Linked DNA regions of Homo sapiens: region 1 is linked to region 2. The links come from fine-mapping of genetic effects on gene expression. A gene starts in region 2. The other region holds a variant in brackets. All regions are shown on one strand. Distances are from middle to middle.

What was found.
Region 1: its variant is fine-mapped to the expression of PHETA1 in whole blood (INTERVAL, PIP 0.92).

The regions. Positions count from the first base shown.
Region 1 is chr12:111,756,407-111,764,730 of GRCh38, forward strand. It overlaps ACAD10 (acyl-CoA dehydrogenase family member 10), which reads left to right. Exons shown (of 21, transcript NM_025247.6): 21 at 1-693. The coding sequence ends at 67. Among named protein-coding and RNA genes, the nearest start is that of ALDH2, 6.4 kb to the right of the region's middle. RefSeq lists enhancers at 1-555, 1,197-1,838, 1,839-2,478, 5,258-5,793. The variant C/T (reference allele first, on the strand shown) is at 3,939.
Region 2 is chr12:111,364,523-111,372,846 of GRCh38, forward strand. It overlaps PHETA1 (PH domain containing endocytic trafficking adaptor 1), which reads right to left and starts at 4,573. Exons shown (of 3, transcript NM_144671.6): 1 at 4,390-4,573; 2 at 1,591-1,735. It overlaps LINC02356 (long intergenic non-protein coding RNA 2356), which reads left to right and starts at 4,739. Exons shown (of 4, transcript NR_187522.1): 1 at 4,739-4,798; 2 at 7,447-7,548. RefSeq lists a silencer at 4,164-4,743.

The DNA.
Region 1 (8,324 bases), 390 kb after region 2:
TGCCGACGGCCCTGACGAGGTGCACCGGGCCACGGTGGCCAAGCTAGAGCTGAAGCACCGCATTTAGAGCCTTGGGGCTGCAGTGGCTCAATGTCCTGGCTGGTCCAGCTGTGCCCAGATCTGTCACTGATGTGCCTCGAAAGATCCGGTGTTTGTGGCTCCTGCACCCTGCTCAGCAGCTCTGTCCCGGGACAGTCAGGGTGGACTCAATCTTTCTGGTTCTCCACAGAAGACGTCTCTGCAAGAAGCCTGGAGTCTGTTTCAGGCCAGGAGGAGGGGATTTGCTGAGGGCCAAGGGGGTTCTGGGACAGAGTCTGGAAAGCTGGTCTTCAGGCTCTCAGTCCCAGGCTGGGCAGGCACGGTCACTTCACTTCAGCCTTTCAGTCCCTCTCTCTCTGCCTGTGGGAATCTGGACACATTTTGGGAGGCCTCCCAAGGCTGTGGGACGTGCTTGCTCTGGCAGCTGCAGGGTTCCTGTCTGGCCTCCCTGGTGAGCAGAGGGGCGGCCACGGCGGGCGGTGGCCTAGAGACCCAGGACCTGGGCGCCTGGGAAAATGGAATGCAACCCACATTGTAAAGCCACTGGCATCTGATTATCTCCATTTGAACACACAGCACAGAACAATCATTTAAATGTTATTTTGGAAAGGGGTTTTGGGGACACAGAAGAATAAGTAAACACATCTCGGAGGCTTTGTGGACTTTCTGTGTCATACAAAGAGAATCGAGTGGAGAGGTTCCCTTCAGCGCCTTCATGCCTCCTCCTGCCTGTGTTTCCTCGAGGTCCAGGCCATCATCTCAGCCCCATACATGCTGGGAGCACAGAGGCCACGGGTCCGATAAGTCCCGAGTTGGCTGCCTTCCCTCACTATGTAGCCCGGGGCTCTGTGCTCATACATACTTTACCCAGGAGCTGGCATGTGAGGCCCCTGCAGCCTCCACCTGCTCCATAGTCAGAATATCTGGGCGAAGGGGAGGTGGTGGCCCATTCGCCATTACACTTTGGAGCACAATCTCTCTTCTCTGAGGAGAGTGGAAATGCTTACTCACTTGCAGTCTGAGCTCCTTGAGAAACCCAGCGACATGCAGAGGTGAGCCAGGGGCAGTGAGGCCCCAGCCTGCTCGTCTCATAACTCGTGGTGGGGTAGCCAAAACTCGTCTCAGGTTAGACCAGACGGGCAGGAACCATCCCCCCCGGCTGCCACCTTGCAGAGGTGACCCTGTGGGAACTGCCTTCCCTGAGAATGGCCAGCCAGGATCAGCACCATGAGGGGCCCGTGAATGGGCTCCTCAGACCCACATGCCCAGGGGTCTGGGGAGGCAGGTCCCCCTTCACCACACTTGAGAAACTGCTTGTTGCTCAAGGAAGTTAAACCCCAAACAAATGCCTGTCACAATGACAGCCACACTGGCCAGGAGCCCACTGCTAAGCTGGCAGGAGCGCAGCAGCTGAGTGCTCCCTCAGGCTCCGGGAGGAGAGGTTTTCTTCAAAAAAAAGGAAGTGGTCGTGGCCTGGCCTGTCTCATGGGCCTAAGAATGTCTTTCGTGGCCTCTGAGGTTAACCTTGCCTGTTCAGTAACGCAGCTGCTGAGAGGAAAATGGGAGTCAGGCTGTGGGTACCCCCATATCTCCCTCAGATCCTCTGCCTTGAGGGCTAGAGACCCCGGGGGCCCCAGGAATGCTGCCTGCAGACAGGCAGGTCCCCCCCAGGCCCTCCACCTCTGCTAGATCATTCTGCCCACCACTGTCGAGGGAGCCTCAGCTCTGGGCCCAGCAGGAGTCCAGGCCTTGGGGAATGTGCAAGTAAACAAAACAGGACAACTGCTGGCCTTTGGGGGTTTGCATCTCAAGTAGGGGATGGCGGTTAGTGCCCCAGAGGCCTGGGCGTGTGATGGGGCAAGCACTGCTGGGGCTGGAGGCTGAGGGGAGGACTCTTTCCAGAAGAGGTGTCTCAGCCAAACCTGCCTGACAAGAAGAAAGGGCAGGCTGGGCGCCGCGGGTCACACACATAATGCCAGCACTTCGGGAGGCCAGATGGTGTCTGGATGCCAAGACCTGTGCTCGCCAAGGCCTGATTTCAGATACCGTCAGATCATTCCACAACAATCCTACAGAGGCTGCAAAGAGACACTTCCAGGCAACTTGTCTGGGCAGGGCCCCTTCAAGACGGCAGCTGGGAGTGACACCGAAAGAACAGGCTCCAGTGATCTCTGCTGCTTGTACCCATTGTCAGTCCCCCAGGGTTGTCGGTCACCACCCAGGGCTTCAGAGTTCCCCAGGGATGCCTCGGGCGTGCCAAGGCTGTCACTCAGAGACCCCTCTTGTTGGTATTTCTGCTGCCCTCCCTGCTGCGACATAGGTACAGATTTCTCCCCTTCGTCCATTTTACCAAAATGGATGCGCGTTGGGACAGGTGAGTCCCGGACTCCAGCGGCCTGGGGCCCACACCTGCAAGTAACCTGGGACAGGGTTTCTTTTAATCAAGTTGACTGAGTGGAGAAATGGCCCAGGGGATTTTCTGTCCTATCAGTGTTAGACGGATGACACAGTGGTGAAGAGCTGTCAGAGGTAAAGGCGGACACTAAAGTGGTAGGGACAGGTTTTATTTATTTTTCTGAGACAGAGTCTCACTCTGTTGCCCAGGCTGGAGTGCATTGGTGCCATCTTGGCTCACTGCAACCTCCACCTCCTGGGTTTAAGCAGTTCTCCTACCTCAGCCTTCCGAGTAGCTGGGATTACAAGCATGCACCACCATGCCTGGCTAATTTTTGTATTTTTAGTAGAGACAGGGTTTTGCCATGTTGACCAGGCTGGTCTTGAACTCCCGATTTCAAGTGATCTGCCTGCTTCAACCTCCCAAAGTGCTGGGATTATAGGCGTGAGCCACCGTGCCCAGCAGGGACAGGTTTTAATCAGTCATAAGCCATTGCTTTAGAGAGCAGGGCCCAGCGGGAACTGAGCTCCACTTGGATTTGTGCGGAGGTGATGGGAGGGGTGGTGGTTGGGAGGGGGGCTCAAGAGTCAGGAAGGGGAACCAGAGAGAGCAGGAAGGAGTGTGGTTGGCGTGACACCTGTCTGGGTTTGCTAACTGGCGCTTAGGGTTAGGCTCCTGCCCTCCCTTGGAGGCTGGGGGACAGGGTCCATCTTCTAGTGTTGCTGGAACAAACAGTAATTTCTTTCAGCAGCTTTGGGCTTTCTCAGGCAGGTACGGGCATCCCACAGATGTGGTCTTGAGATGTTGGACACCATGTAACTTAAGTCTTTTCATGGGAGTATGGGGGTGTGGACTTAAGCATTTGTGCTGAAAGTCTGCAGTTTTAATATGCCAAGTTTGAGGTCTAGTGGAGATGGGAGTTCAGAGGAAGGCTGGCGAGAGCGTGCTCAAGGAGAGAATTTTTGTCAGGACTGTGGCTCTAGATTCAAATGGCCCAAATTCAAATGGGTTTAAATCCTGACTCTGTGACAGAGTAGCTGGGCAACCTTTGGAAATGTTCCTTCATCTTAGAGACTTAGATCTCTCGTTTTATTTATTTATTTATTTAAATTTTTTTTAAGAGACAGAGGTCTCACCATGTTGGCCAGGCTGGTCTCAAACTCCTGAGCTCAAGCAATCCTCCTACCTCAGCATCCCAAAGTGCTGGGATTATAAGCATGCGCCACCACACCCGGCCAGATTTCTCATTTGAAAAATGAGTAGACCAGTCCTTGCTTCCCAGAATCACCTGAGGATTAAATGGGATGATGTGTGGCTTACCATAAGCCACAGCACACACCAGCTGTTCGTGTGTGGCTGGAGTCAGGAGCGGGACCCGCTAAAGAGGAGGCGGCTGTGCTCACATTGGAGTGCAAGAATGTGGGGCCTCATCTGGGCTGAGGACTAGCCTGGACCACATAAGATGCCATGCTTCTCACACTCAACTAGCAAAGGAATGCCCCTG[C/T]GATCAGGTTAAAATGCAGAGCGTGGTGCGGTGGGCCTGCCTTCCTAACACACTTGCAGGTCATGCTCCTTGTTTTGGGACCCACTTTGAGAAGCGAGGGTGAGAAGGGCTTGACTTCCCTAACCTGATCCCCAGGGGAGGCAGAATGAGCAGACACCGCCTGGCTAGAATCATAAGAGCTACTGGGTATTTAGTACATACCAGGTGCCAAGAACTATCTGTATATTATTATTATTATTGTTTTTTGAGACAGAGTCTCACTCTGTTGTGCAGGCTGGAGTGCAGTGGTACGATCTCAGCTCACTGCAGCCTCTGCCTCCCGGGTTCAAGTGATTTTCCAGTCTCAGCTTCCTGAGTAGCTGGGACTACAGGCACGCACCACCACACCTGGCTAATTTTTGTAATTTTAGTAGAGACGGTTTCACCATGTTGGCCAGGCTTGTCTTGAACTCCTGACAGGTGATTGACCCACCTCAGCCTCCTAAAGTGCTGGGATTACAGGCATGGCCACTGCGCCTGGCCAGTTATTTTGAACCCTATAACAATTGGCAGATCCTTTTATTCTGCCCCTGCTAGAGATGAGGAGACAGAGGTTCAAAGGAATTGTGCAACTTGCTTAAGATCACACAGCTTGTCAGTGAATTCAAACCTAAATTCAGAAGATCCCAGAGCTCTTTCTACTCCATGGCATGGATCGTTAAGATCACCTCTGTGAGGTACTGGCCTCCTCACCTAGGAAAGGAGGAAGATGATGAGGCTCATGTCACCAAGGAGAGCGTGCTGTGCCCTCAAGAAGTGCATGAGCTTCTGATGCTTCCAGAATAATCTCCGGGATGCCCCCCCGACTGCCTCTTAGGGGGTCAGGCTCCATGATGGGGGTGTCTGCCCTGTGGCCCTGGCTGCCTGTGGAGTGTCAAGCCAGCTGTGTGTCCGAGAGAGAGAGAGATTGTGTGTGTGTGTGTGTGTGTGTGTGTGTATGTGTGTGTGTGTACATATGCAAACAAGGAGGGCAGAGCTGGGGCTCAGGGCTGACCATATTTTTCCTCCTACCTGTGAGGGCAGATGTCTTACTGTGTTTTGTTTTGTTTTGCTTTTGAGACGGAGTTTTGCTCTTGTTGCCCAGGCTGGAGTGCAATGGCATTATCTCAGCTCACCGCAACCTCCGCCTCTCGGGTTAAAGCGATTCTCCTTCCTCAGCCTCCCAAGTAGCTGAGATTACAGGCATGCACCACTACACCTGGCTAATTTTGTATTTTTAGTAGAGATGGGGTTTCTCCATGTTGGTCAGGCTGGTCTAGAACTCCCAACTTCAGATGATCCGCCCGCCTCGGCCTCAAAGTGTTGGATTATAGGCTGAGCCACTGCCCCCAGCCAGATGTCTTCCTGTTAAAATGGGGCTTTAAATTCCTCACCTAACATCATTGTTTGCAACAACAGCAACAAAGAGCTTCCATAGACAGAGTCAGTGTCCCAGAACGGGGACTAAACAACCAAACATCTAGAATCTCACCAGTCAGTGACCCTGAAGGAGACCTCAGTCACAACCTTTGTTGGAGAGCAAGTGGAACTAGGGTTTTTTAAAGCCTGAAAGCACATCAGTTGTGCCCTAACAATGAAAGGTTTCAGAGTAGTTGAAAGCTAGGAATTTGAATATCTTAGAGGAAGTTAAGTGGCTTGAGGTGCTTCCACCGAAGGTCTCAGCACCATGAGAATGCCTGTGCTTCTGCCGGCCCCATTCCTGCCAGTGAGCCCACAGACAAGGGGCGATGAAGAACCAGGAAACAGATGGAAAGAAACGTGGAAGAGAGGAAAGCCTCAGACTGTCAGGGTGAAATCTAGGTTGAGAGTTAAGTTTTAGTTCATTCTTTGGAGAGACTGAGCCACAAGGAGCCATAATTACAATAGCGTTTCAGCACATCCAGGTGATCTTGGTCTGCAGTATTTGGTTGAGGACTGTGTGAAAGCAGCTGAGGCCAAATGTGGTGGCTCACACCTGTAATCTCAGCATTTTGGGAGGCTGACTTGGGTGGATCACTTGAGGCCAGGAGTTTGAGACCAGCCTGGCTAATATGGTGAAACCCTGTCTCCACTAAAAATACAAACATTAACCAGGCATGGTAGTGCATGCCTGTAATCCCAGCTACTTGGGAAGCTTGAGGCAGGAGAATCGCTTGAACCCAGGAGGCAGAGGTTGCAGTGAACTGAGATGGTACCACTGCACTGCAGCTTGGGCAACAGAGAGAGACTCCGTCTCAAAAAAAAAAAAAAAAAAAAAAAAAGCAGCTAAGGAAGGCTACTATGGTCACAAAAGACTTCCCAGAAGATGGGACTTGGGCTGGATCTTGATAGGGAAGATTTCCATAAGGAGAGAGGGCAGGACATGGGTGGAACAGGTGCACCAACAGTAGGGCACCAGGGATGAGAGAGCTGCTGGTTAGGATTATGGTGAGCACCACAGACCACAGACAAACCAGAATAAACGAACCTGTGGACCAGCGTGTCCTGCACTGAGACACACACCACGCACACCAACAGGGACGAAGCACGTTGCCCACATTGTATCGATGTATGCGAATGTGGATAAGTCAGCTCATTTTCTCCTTCCCCTCCCCACAACCAAGTTTACTGCTGCTCCTGGCTCCCCCATCCTGGGGAATAGCACATGGTAAGAACCTCAGCACCCACTCCACTCCTCTCGCCCTCATCTCCACACAGCTACCTGTCAATTCCACCTTCACACTCTTTCTGCCAACTGAGCCCTCCTCATCTCTCTGCCTCTGGCCTGCCTCCCCACTACAACTGAGTTTCCATGCAGTTCTCAGAGGAATCCCTCGAAGGCACATGTGCAACCTCATCACTTCCAGGCTGAAAGATCTTGGTTAAGAGAAATATTAGTACAAGCTATTAAGACTTAGGAGGCTGCCGGGCATGGTGGCACATGCCTGTAGTCTCAGCATTTTGGGAGGCCAAGGTGGGCTGACTGCTTGAGCCCAGGAGTTCAAGACCAGCATGGGCAACATAAAGAGACCCTATCTCTACAAAAAAAAAAAAAAAAAATTAGCTGGTGCCTTAGTCCGTTTTCATGCTGCTGATAAAGACATACCTGAGACTGGGCAATTTACAAAAGAGGTTTAGGCCAGGTGCGGTGGCTCATGCCTGTAATCCCAGCACTTTGGGAGGCCAAGGCAGGTGGATCACCTGAGGTCAGGAGTTCGAGACTAGCCTGGCCAACATGTTGAAACCCCATCTCTACTAAAAAATACAAAAATTAGCCAGTCGTGGTGGCACGTCTGTAATCCTAGCTACTTGGAAGGCTGAGGAAGGAGAATCGCTTGAATCTGGGAGGCGGAGTTTGCAGTGAGCCAAGATAGCACCACTGCACTGCAGCCTGAGTGACAGAGCTAGACTGTGTCTCAAAAAAAAAAAAAAAGAAAAGAAGTTTAATGGACTTATAGTTCCACATAGCTGGGGAGGCCTCACAATCACGGCAGAAGGCAAGGAGGAGCAAGTCACGTCTTACATAAATGGCCGCAGGCAGAAAAAGAGCTTGTGCAGGGAAACTCCCGTTTTTAAAACCATCAGATCTCGTGAGACTCATTCACTATCAAAAGAACAGTGCAGTAAAGACCTGCCCCCATAATTCAGTCACCTCCCACCAGGTTCTTCCCATAACATGTGGGAATTGTGGGAGTTACAATTCTAGATGAGATTTGGGTAGGGACGCAGTGAAACCATATCAGTCAGGCATGGTGGCATGCACCTGTAATCACAACTACTCAGGAGGCTGAGGTGGGAGGATCAATTGAGCCTGGGAGGTCGAGGCTGCAGCGAGTTGTGATTGTGCTACTGCACTCCAGCCTGGGTGACAGCGAGACCCTGGTCTTGGGGAAAAAAAACAAGAAGACTTAGAAAGCTACAGTGATGAAAACAGTGTCATACTGGCACACGCATACAGAGATCAATGACACAGAATATACAGTAGTTCAGAAATAGCTACTTACAGTTACTTAGTAGTAAAAAGATGACTGGCAGGATGTATTTGTGCCATATATGATAGACAAAATGTTAATTGCCTGGATACATATAAAGCACCTACAAATCAATTTCAGAAAGACCAACAATCCAATAGAAAAGTGAGCCAGAGACATGAGCAGCTAGTTCATAGCAGAGGAAACATGCATGACTTCATCTAGGCAGAGATGCTCAAGCTCACTCGTAAAAGAGAAGCAAATTAATGTGGTAGTGAAATGCCACTTTTTCGTCTCTCAGATTAGCAAAGCTAAAAAAAAAATCCTGAAACTTCTACTGGTGAGGGTGTAAGGAAACTCAGACATGACAGGTAGTGGGGCATAAATTAAACTTCTTTGGAGGGTAATATATCTGTAT
Region 2 (8,324 bases):
ACTTTGGAAGGCCAAGGCCAATCCTTCTCACCTGAGGTCAGGAGTTCGAGACCAGCCTGGCCAACATGGCAAAACCCCATCTCTACTAAAAAACAGCCAGGTGAGGTGGTGCACGCCCATAATCCCAGCTACTTGGGAGACTGAGGCAGAAGAATCGCTTGAACCCAAGAGGCGGAGGTTGCAGTGAGCCAAGACTGCGCCATTGCAGTCCAGCCTGGGCGACAGAGCAAGACTCCATCTCAAAAAAAAAAAAAAAATAGCCAGGCATGGTGGGGGGTGCCTATAATCCCAGGTACTTGGGAGGCTGAGGCAGGAGAAGTGCTTGAACCCAGGAGACAGAAGTTGCAGTCAGCCGAGATTGCACTACTACACTCCAGCCTGGGGACAGAGCCAGACTCCGTCTCAAAAAAAAAGAAAGAATTTGGGGAAAGATGCAGGCCCAGGGCTAGGCTGACTTACAGGAAGGAGGGGCAGGGGGTCGACCCGTGCCATTTAGCATAGAGGACTCTAACTCCATGCCATCGGCCACAGTGACCCCATCCACCTTCCCCCAAGGAGTATATGATGGGGCAACGCTGGCCAGGAAGGACTTGTCGGGAGGTGGCATCTGCGTCCCTGGCCTGGCCACCTTCCCTTGGGGTTTTCCATGGCCATTTTGAGAGCCTGCCTTATCTCCCACTGCAGAGCCTCAGCCTGCATAGGATGGTAGCTACATTTTTCAAGAAGCAAAGGATATAAAGTCCTGGTACGCAGTAGGCACTCAGTGTTCATTCCCCTGCCTGGGTGGTGTCTTTCTCAGAGCCTGGTGGAATGAGGTCAGGGTGGTGGCTCTCCTGGGAGCAGGTGACCGCAGTGAGGCCCTGCCAGACTACCTGTCCTAGGGTGGAGGGGGTTGTCCTTGCCACCTCCTGTCAGCCACATAGGCAGTCAGGGAAGGCTTCCTAGAAGACGGAACATGAGTTGTGACTTAGAAACTGAGATCAACCAACCCAAATGCCCATCAATGATAGACTGAATAAAGGAAATGTGGTACATACACACCATGGAAAACTATCCAGCCATAAAAAGGAATGAGATCATGTCCTTTGCGGGGAAATAGATGGAGCTGGAAGCCATCATCCTCAGCAAACTAACACAGGAACAGAAAACCAAATACCGCATGTTCTTACTCATAAGTGGGAGTTGAACAATGAGACACATGGACACAGGGAGGGGCAGAACACATATCGGGGCCTGTTGGGGGATCGGGGGTGAGGGGAGGGAACTTAGAGAACGGGTCAATGGTGCAGCAAGCCACCATGGCACACGTATACCTATGTGACAAGCCTGCATGTTCTGCACATGTATCATGGAACTTAAAATAAAAAAAGAAACTGAGGTCAGTTTGTCCTGACCTAGTGGGAGGCCAAGGCCAGAGCCCCCAAAGTCTCCAGGTGTTGAATCCCCACCCTGCCTCTCAGCTACAGCTGTCCCTCTCTAAGCCGCAGGGATTCACGCATTCCCCACACCACCACCCATCAACTCCCATGTGGATGCTGGCCCCGGTTCTCACAGGACCCTCCCGCCCTGCTTGCCCAGTTCCGCTCCTACCTCTCAGGCCACCACTTGCCTCCCTGCCCTCTGCTCAGCTCCAGCCTCAGCTCGCTCTTCTCTGGATTCAAATGTCAGCTCTGCAGCATCTGGGCTGGGGGACCCCAGGCAGGCTATTCATCTCTCTGGGCCTCTGTTTCTGCATCTGTAAAATGGGATCGTAACAGTGCCTAAGTCAGGGCTGTTGTGACAATGATACAGTGACTATATGGACTTTGCGGAGCATGGGGCCAGGCACACAGTGCCTGCTGAGCGCGGTTGCAGTTCACATTTTTCTTGGCTTTTCCCCAAACATCCCTGTGTTGTGCTTCCGATCTCAGCAAATGGCCCTTGGTTTCCCTCTCACCCCCGCATCTGATCGCACATCAAGTCCAGTTGATCCCCCTCTCCAGCGTCTTCCAAATCAGTTGCCTAATCTGTCCACTCCACCTCCCCATTCTAGGCCCCATCACCATTCACTGGGATGGCTGCTGTAGCCTCCTCATAAGTCTCCTTGCCCCTCCCTGTCCATGTTCCTCAAGGTAAGATCCAAGCCTCCTTCCTAAGCTCTTCTCCGAGCCACACTGAAATCCACTTCCCACAGATGGATCCTGTGAAAATTAAGTCCAATCACACTCCTCCTCTGCTCTAAACCCTCCCATGGCTCCCTACTTCTCTCAGCATAAAATTAAATCCTTAGGCAGGGTGCGGTGGCTCACACCTGTAATGCTGGCACTTTGGGAGGCTGAGGGGGTAGGATTGCTTGAGTTAGAGACCAGCCTGGACAACATAGCAAGACCCTATCTCTATAAAAAATAGAAAAAAAAATAGCTGGGCATGGTGATACAAGCCTCTAGTCCTAGCTATCTGGGAGGCTAACATGGAAGGACCCCTTGAACTTGGGGGGTGACATAGTGAGATTCTGTCTCAAAAAAAAAAAAAAAAAAATCCAAGCCTCCCTTGGCTTCCAAGTTCCCTTTCCCTACCTCTTTCCCCCTTGTTCACTCAGCTCCAGCCATCCTGGCCTCCTTTCTGTTCCTCAAATACACCAGACACATCCCCACCTCCAAGACTTGGTCCCGGCTGTCTGCCTGCAGGTCTTCACAAGGCCAGCTCCCCATCCTTTGGTCTCAGCCTAGCTGTCACCTCCTCAGAGAGGTGGTCCCTGGCCACCCTATGCACAAGAGGCCCCCCAGTCCCTCTCCTGTGCCTCCACCTGAAATTAATACCTGGGTCATTTCTGCCTGCAGGGGCGTTTGTGGTCTGAATTCTAGTGCCTGGCATGCAGTAGGTACTCACACAGCTGTTTGATTCATTCTGCAGTATCTTCTGAAACCTTTCAACAGCCCCAAGACAAGGGATCTCACCCCACATTCACAGATGTGGAAATGGACACAGGGAGATTCAATAAGTTGGCTAGAGGCATACAACTGTGCCCAGAATCACATGCTCCAGGCAAGCCACCCAAATAAAGGGGCTGATCTTGGGGTCTCTCCACCCCATCAAGGCCAAAGGAATAGCAACTTCCCTCCTGCTCAGCAACCCTCCTCCCCCGACTGCCTAGATAGAGGCCAAACTGGTTCAAGGTCACCAGCAGGCACAGGACCCAGCTCTGCCCATGACCCCTGCCTCCACCAGAACTGGGAAGACAGGAAGCTGCAGGGGCACAGGCGCCAGCCTTGCCTGGAGCGAAGGCCTGGCCCCTGCCTTATCTCCCCACACTGTTTTCCAAGAAGTTCAGAGTCCACTGTGGGCACTGCTGCTGATTCAACAGCCCATGGCCAGACAGGAAGCTGGAGGGAGCCTGGCCCAGCTCTGCTCCCAAGGCAAAGTTCCTGCCTCCGCAGGTCCAGGCTGGAGGACCTTGGACAAGTCGTTTCACCTTTCCAAGTCTCAGTGTCCTCATCTGTTAAATTGGGCTGTGTGGCGAGGGTTCATGAGCTAAAAGAAGGAAAACCCACTGGCAAACTATGGGAAATGGATTGCAAATATTAGCTGCTGTGAGTCGGAGTTTTTTCTCAGCCTCATCTGCAAAATGGTGACGTTAACTTCCATCCCTCTAAGGGCTGAGTGAATTGACTCCTGAAGAGTCATTTTGCAAAATACTTGGTGGGTAGTGAGCTTTCAGGGAAAGAGCTGTCAAAAAGGCAAATAATTCATCCAAGATCTCCAGGGGCACAGCTGGCCCCGGAACCCAGGTCTCCTGGGAGACTGAAGCATGGCATTTTGGCACTCACATCAACGAAAAGAAGCCAGTACCGCAGGTCCTGGGGTTGAATCCAGCTGCCCTCAGTGTCCCCCAGCAGCGGGCGTGGGGAAGAGGGTGTGGCAGGCACAGGCTGAAAAACATGTGTGCCAAGAACACTAAAGAGCAGCCTGGCCGTCACCGCCCCAGCAGGGACCCCAGAGACACGCCAGCACCGCCGTCCAGACACAGGCAGCCCCCTTGTCCACGGCAGGGGCTGCTGCTCCAGGTGTGGCCCTGCTCCCGGCTGCTCTCTGTCCCTTTGTGTGTTGTGCGTGGGAGCTCTCTTAAGTTCCTTAAAGGACAGCCAGAGCCCCAGATGGGTGATCAGCGGCAGAATGGGGGGCTTATCCGCAGTCCCCACCAGCGGCAGACGTCCCTATGGGCTGAGAGAGGGGAGGGTGGTCATTGGCCAAGTTCGCCTCGGCAGCTGGAGAAGTCACCACTGGTGCGGAGTCCCAGCGGGGAAGATCCCCGCAACGCGCTCTCCAGGTGGCCGGGGGACCCCGAGGCCCAGGGCGGCCCGACCCGGGTCCCATGTCCTCGTGCATGTCCCCCCGCCAGGCCCGCCTTACCTCGCAGCGCAGGCCTAGGGCGGCGACGGGACGGGAGGCGCGAGGTTGCGGGGTGGCCCGGCCATGGTTCGGGACTGGCCCGGTGGCGGCGACGGCGGCGGCAGCGCTTTGTCTCCTGGGCGGCCGGGCCGGCGCAGCCGCGGGAGAGCGCGGATCCGACGGAAGGAGGCGGGAGCAACCGGACAGTCCGCGACCCACGGGCGCGCCCCTTTAACCCTTCCCAGCCTGCTCGCGCCGGGCCCGCCCCCGCGTTCTTCCCACCTCCCGATTGGCAGGCCCCGAACCGGCACGCCCCCGTGAGCCCGCCCTCGAAATCACTCTTAAAGGGTCCGCTCCTGGCTCGCGACTCCCCAGTTCCCTAGCCCAGAAAAGCGGATTGGAGCCCGGGAAGCTCATTGCGATTCCAAAGGTAAGGACTGGCCCAGGTCGTGGATTAGCCTGCAAAAGCATTTGGGGGTCCTGGGCGGGCCATTCGCTGAAGTCCTAGGCTTAAGTCCGAACTCCCCCCAGGACGAGGCAGGAGGATTGCCTGAGCCTAGTAGTTCAAGACCAGCCTGGGCAGCAGAGGGAGACCACCATCTCTACAAATAATAAAAATATTTGCTAAACCTGGGTTGCCAGGTTTAGCAAATTTAATGCCCAGTTAAATTAGAAAAATAGCTCTAATTCCTGAAAAATGTGTGAGTGGCAGAAAAAACAGCTGAATCCAGGACATTTGCGTACAGCACTGTTCCATACGGACAGGGCGCCTCGCAAGCTTCCCCTGGCTCCAGGTGAAGAGAGGAAGTTCTGGAATTAGGCAGACTTGAGTTCGAGTCGCACTAGGCCACTGAACACTGTGTGAGCTTAGAGAAATCATTTCACTTCTCTAAGCCTCCGTTTCCTCATCCGGAAAATAAAGACCATCATGATATGTAAAGTGCACGGCACAACAGAAAGCTCTCAAGAAATAGGAATTGCTGTTGTTTTTGCCCTGCCCACCTCCTTGAACCCTTCCTTCCTGTTCCTGCCGCCTCTTCTCCACCACCCGCCACCTCCCAATCACTATTAAGTCCTGGCCTGAAAGCAGGAAGAACAGGACAGACCAGGGTCAGCTCTCCATTGTACAGCCTCTCACTAAGCGCCTACTGTGTGCCAGGCACTGTACCTGAACCAGGTAAGCAGGTGCAGCCAGGAATCAAGACAACACAAATGAGTTCTGGAAGTGATTCATGCTAGGACTGTACGCTAAGGCAATGGGGCAGAAAGCCTGGGAGTGCAGTTTTTTTGTTTTTGTTTTTTGTTTTTTGTGTTTTTTTGTCACCCAGGTTGGGGTGCAGTGGCACAATCACAGCTCATTGTAACCTGAACTCCTGGGTTCAACCGAGCCTCCCACCTCAGCCTCCCAAGTAGTTGGGACTACAGGTGTGTACCACCACACCCGGCTAATTTTTTTTAATTTTTTGTAGAGATCGGGGGGGTCTTGCTATCTTGCCCAAGCTGGAAGTGCAGCTTTTAGACAAGGTGGTCAGGGAAGGCCTCTCTGAGGACAGACCTGGAGGAATGAGGGAGGGAGCCATGTGGTTATCTGGGAGAAGGAGGTCCCAGGCAGAGGGAACAGCAAGTGCAAAAGCCCTGAAATGGGGCCATCCTGGGCATGTTTGAAGAACAACGAGGAGACCAGTGGAGCCAAGTGAGCAATGGGAAGAATAGTAGGAAAATAGGTCAGCTGGCTGGGCGCAGTGGCTCACGCCTATAATCCCAGCACTTTGGGAGGCCGAGGCAGGTAGATCACTTGAGGTCAGGAGTTCGAGACCAGCCTAGCCAACATGGTGAAACCCGGTCTCTACTAAAAATACAAAAAAAAAAAAAAAAAAAAATTAGCCAGGCATGGTGGTGTACACCTGTAATCCCAGTTACTTGGGAGGCTGAGACAGGAGAATCACTTGAACCCAGGAGGCAGAGGTTGCAATGAGCTGAGATTGCACCACTGCACTCCAGCCTGGGTGACAGAGCAAGACTCTGTCAAACAAAAAAAAAACAAAAACAAAAAAAAAAACACAATAGATCAGAGATTATTGGCAAAGCCAGAAAGCCAGGTGACCTAGGGGCTTAAGGACCAGAGGAAAGATTTTGCTTTTACTCTAAGAAGAATGAGGAGCCATGGGAGGGTTTTGAGCAGAGGAGGGACATGGTCTGTGTTAGATTTAACATGGTCCCTGACTGCTATGGGCAGGGAATGATAGTAGAAGCCAGGCGATCAGGGAGAACACTACTGCAGTAGTCCAAGCAAGTGATGGTGGTGGCTTAGAGTGGAGCAGTGGAGGTGGAGAGAAGTGGTTAAGTATAGATATATATTTAATGGATATATGTATTAGTCCGTTTTCACACTGCTGATAAAGACATACCCGAAACTGAGAACAAAAAGAGGTTTAATTGGACTTACAGTTCCACATGGCTGAGGAGGCCTTGGAATCATGGCGGGAGGTGAAAGACACTTCTTACATGGCAGTGGCAAGAGAAAGTGAGGAAGAAACAAAAGCGGAAACCCCTGATAAACCCTTCAGATCTCGTGAGACTTATTCACTATTATAAGAATAGCGTAGGAAAGACTGGCCCCCATGACTCAATGACCTCCTCTTGGGTCCCACTCACAACACGTGGGAATTCTGGGAGATACAAATCAAGTTCAGATTTTGGTGGGGACACAGCCAAACCATATCATTTTGCCCCGGCCCCTCCAAATCTCACGTCCTCACATTTCAAAACCAATCATGCCTTCCCAACAGTCCCCCAAAGTCTTAGCTAATTTCAGAATTAACCCAAAATTCCACAGTCCAAAGTCTTGTCTGAGACAAGGCAAGTCCCTTCTGCCTATGAGCCTGTAAAATCAAAAGCAAGCTAGTTACTTCCTAGATACAGTGGGGATGCAGGTATTGGGTAAATACAGCCGTTCCAAATGGGGGAAATTGGCCAAAACAAAGGGGTTACAGGGCCCATGCAAGTCTGAAATCCAGTGGGGCAGTCAAATTTTAAAGCTCCAAAATGATCTCCTTTGACTCCGGGTCTCACATCCAGGTCACGCTGATGCAAGAGATGGGTTCCCATGATCTTGGGCAGCTCCACTCCTGTGGCTTTGCAGGGTACAGGCTTCCTCCTGGCTGCTTTCACGGGCTGGTGGTGAGTATCTGTGGCTTTTCCAGGCACACAGTGCAAGCTGTCAGTGGATCTACCATTTCAGAGTCTGGAGGATGGTGGCCCTCTTCTCACAGCTCCACTAGGCAGTACCCCAGTAGGGACTCTGTGTGGGGGCTCTGAACCCCACATTTCCCTTCTGCACCACCCTAGCAGAGGTTCTCCATGAGGGCCCTGCCCCTGCAGCAAACTTTTGCCTGGGCATCCAGGCATTTCCAAACATCTTCTGAAATCTAGGCAGAGGTTCCCAAACCTGAATTCTTGACTTCTGTGCACCCACAGGCTCAACACCACATGGAAGCTGCCAAGGCTTGGGGCTTCCACCCTCTGAAACCACAGCCTGAGCTCTGTGTTGGTGCCTTTCAGCCATGGCTGGAGCAGCTGGGACACAGAACACCAACTCCCTAGGATGCACACAGCACAGGAACCCAGGGCCTGGCCCACAAAACCACTTTTTCCTCCTGGACCTCTGGACCTGTGATGGAAGGGGCTGCCAGGAAGTTCTCTGACATGGCCTGGAGACATTTCCTCCATGGTCTTGGGGATTAACATTAGGCTCCTTGCTACGTAATGCAAATTTCTGCAGCCGGCTTGAATTTCTCCCCAGAAAATGGGCTTTTCTTTCTATTACAATTTACTTCTTATTTTTTTCTTTTCTTTTCTTTTTTTTTTTTTTTTTTTTTTTTTGAGACAGAGTCTTGCTCTGTTGCCCAGGCTGGAGTGCAGTGGTGTGATCTCAGCTCACTGCAACCTCCGCCTCC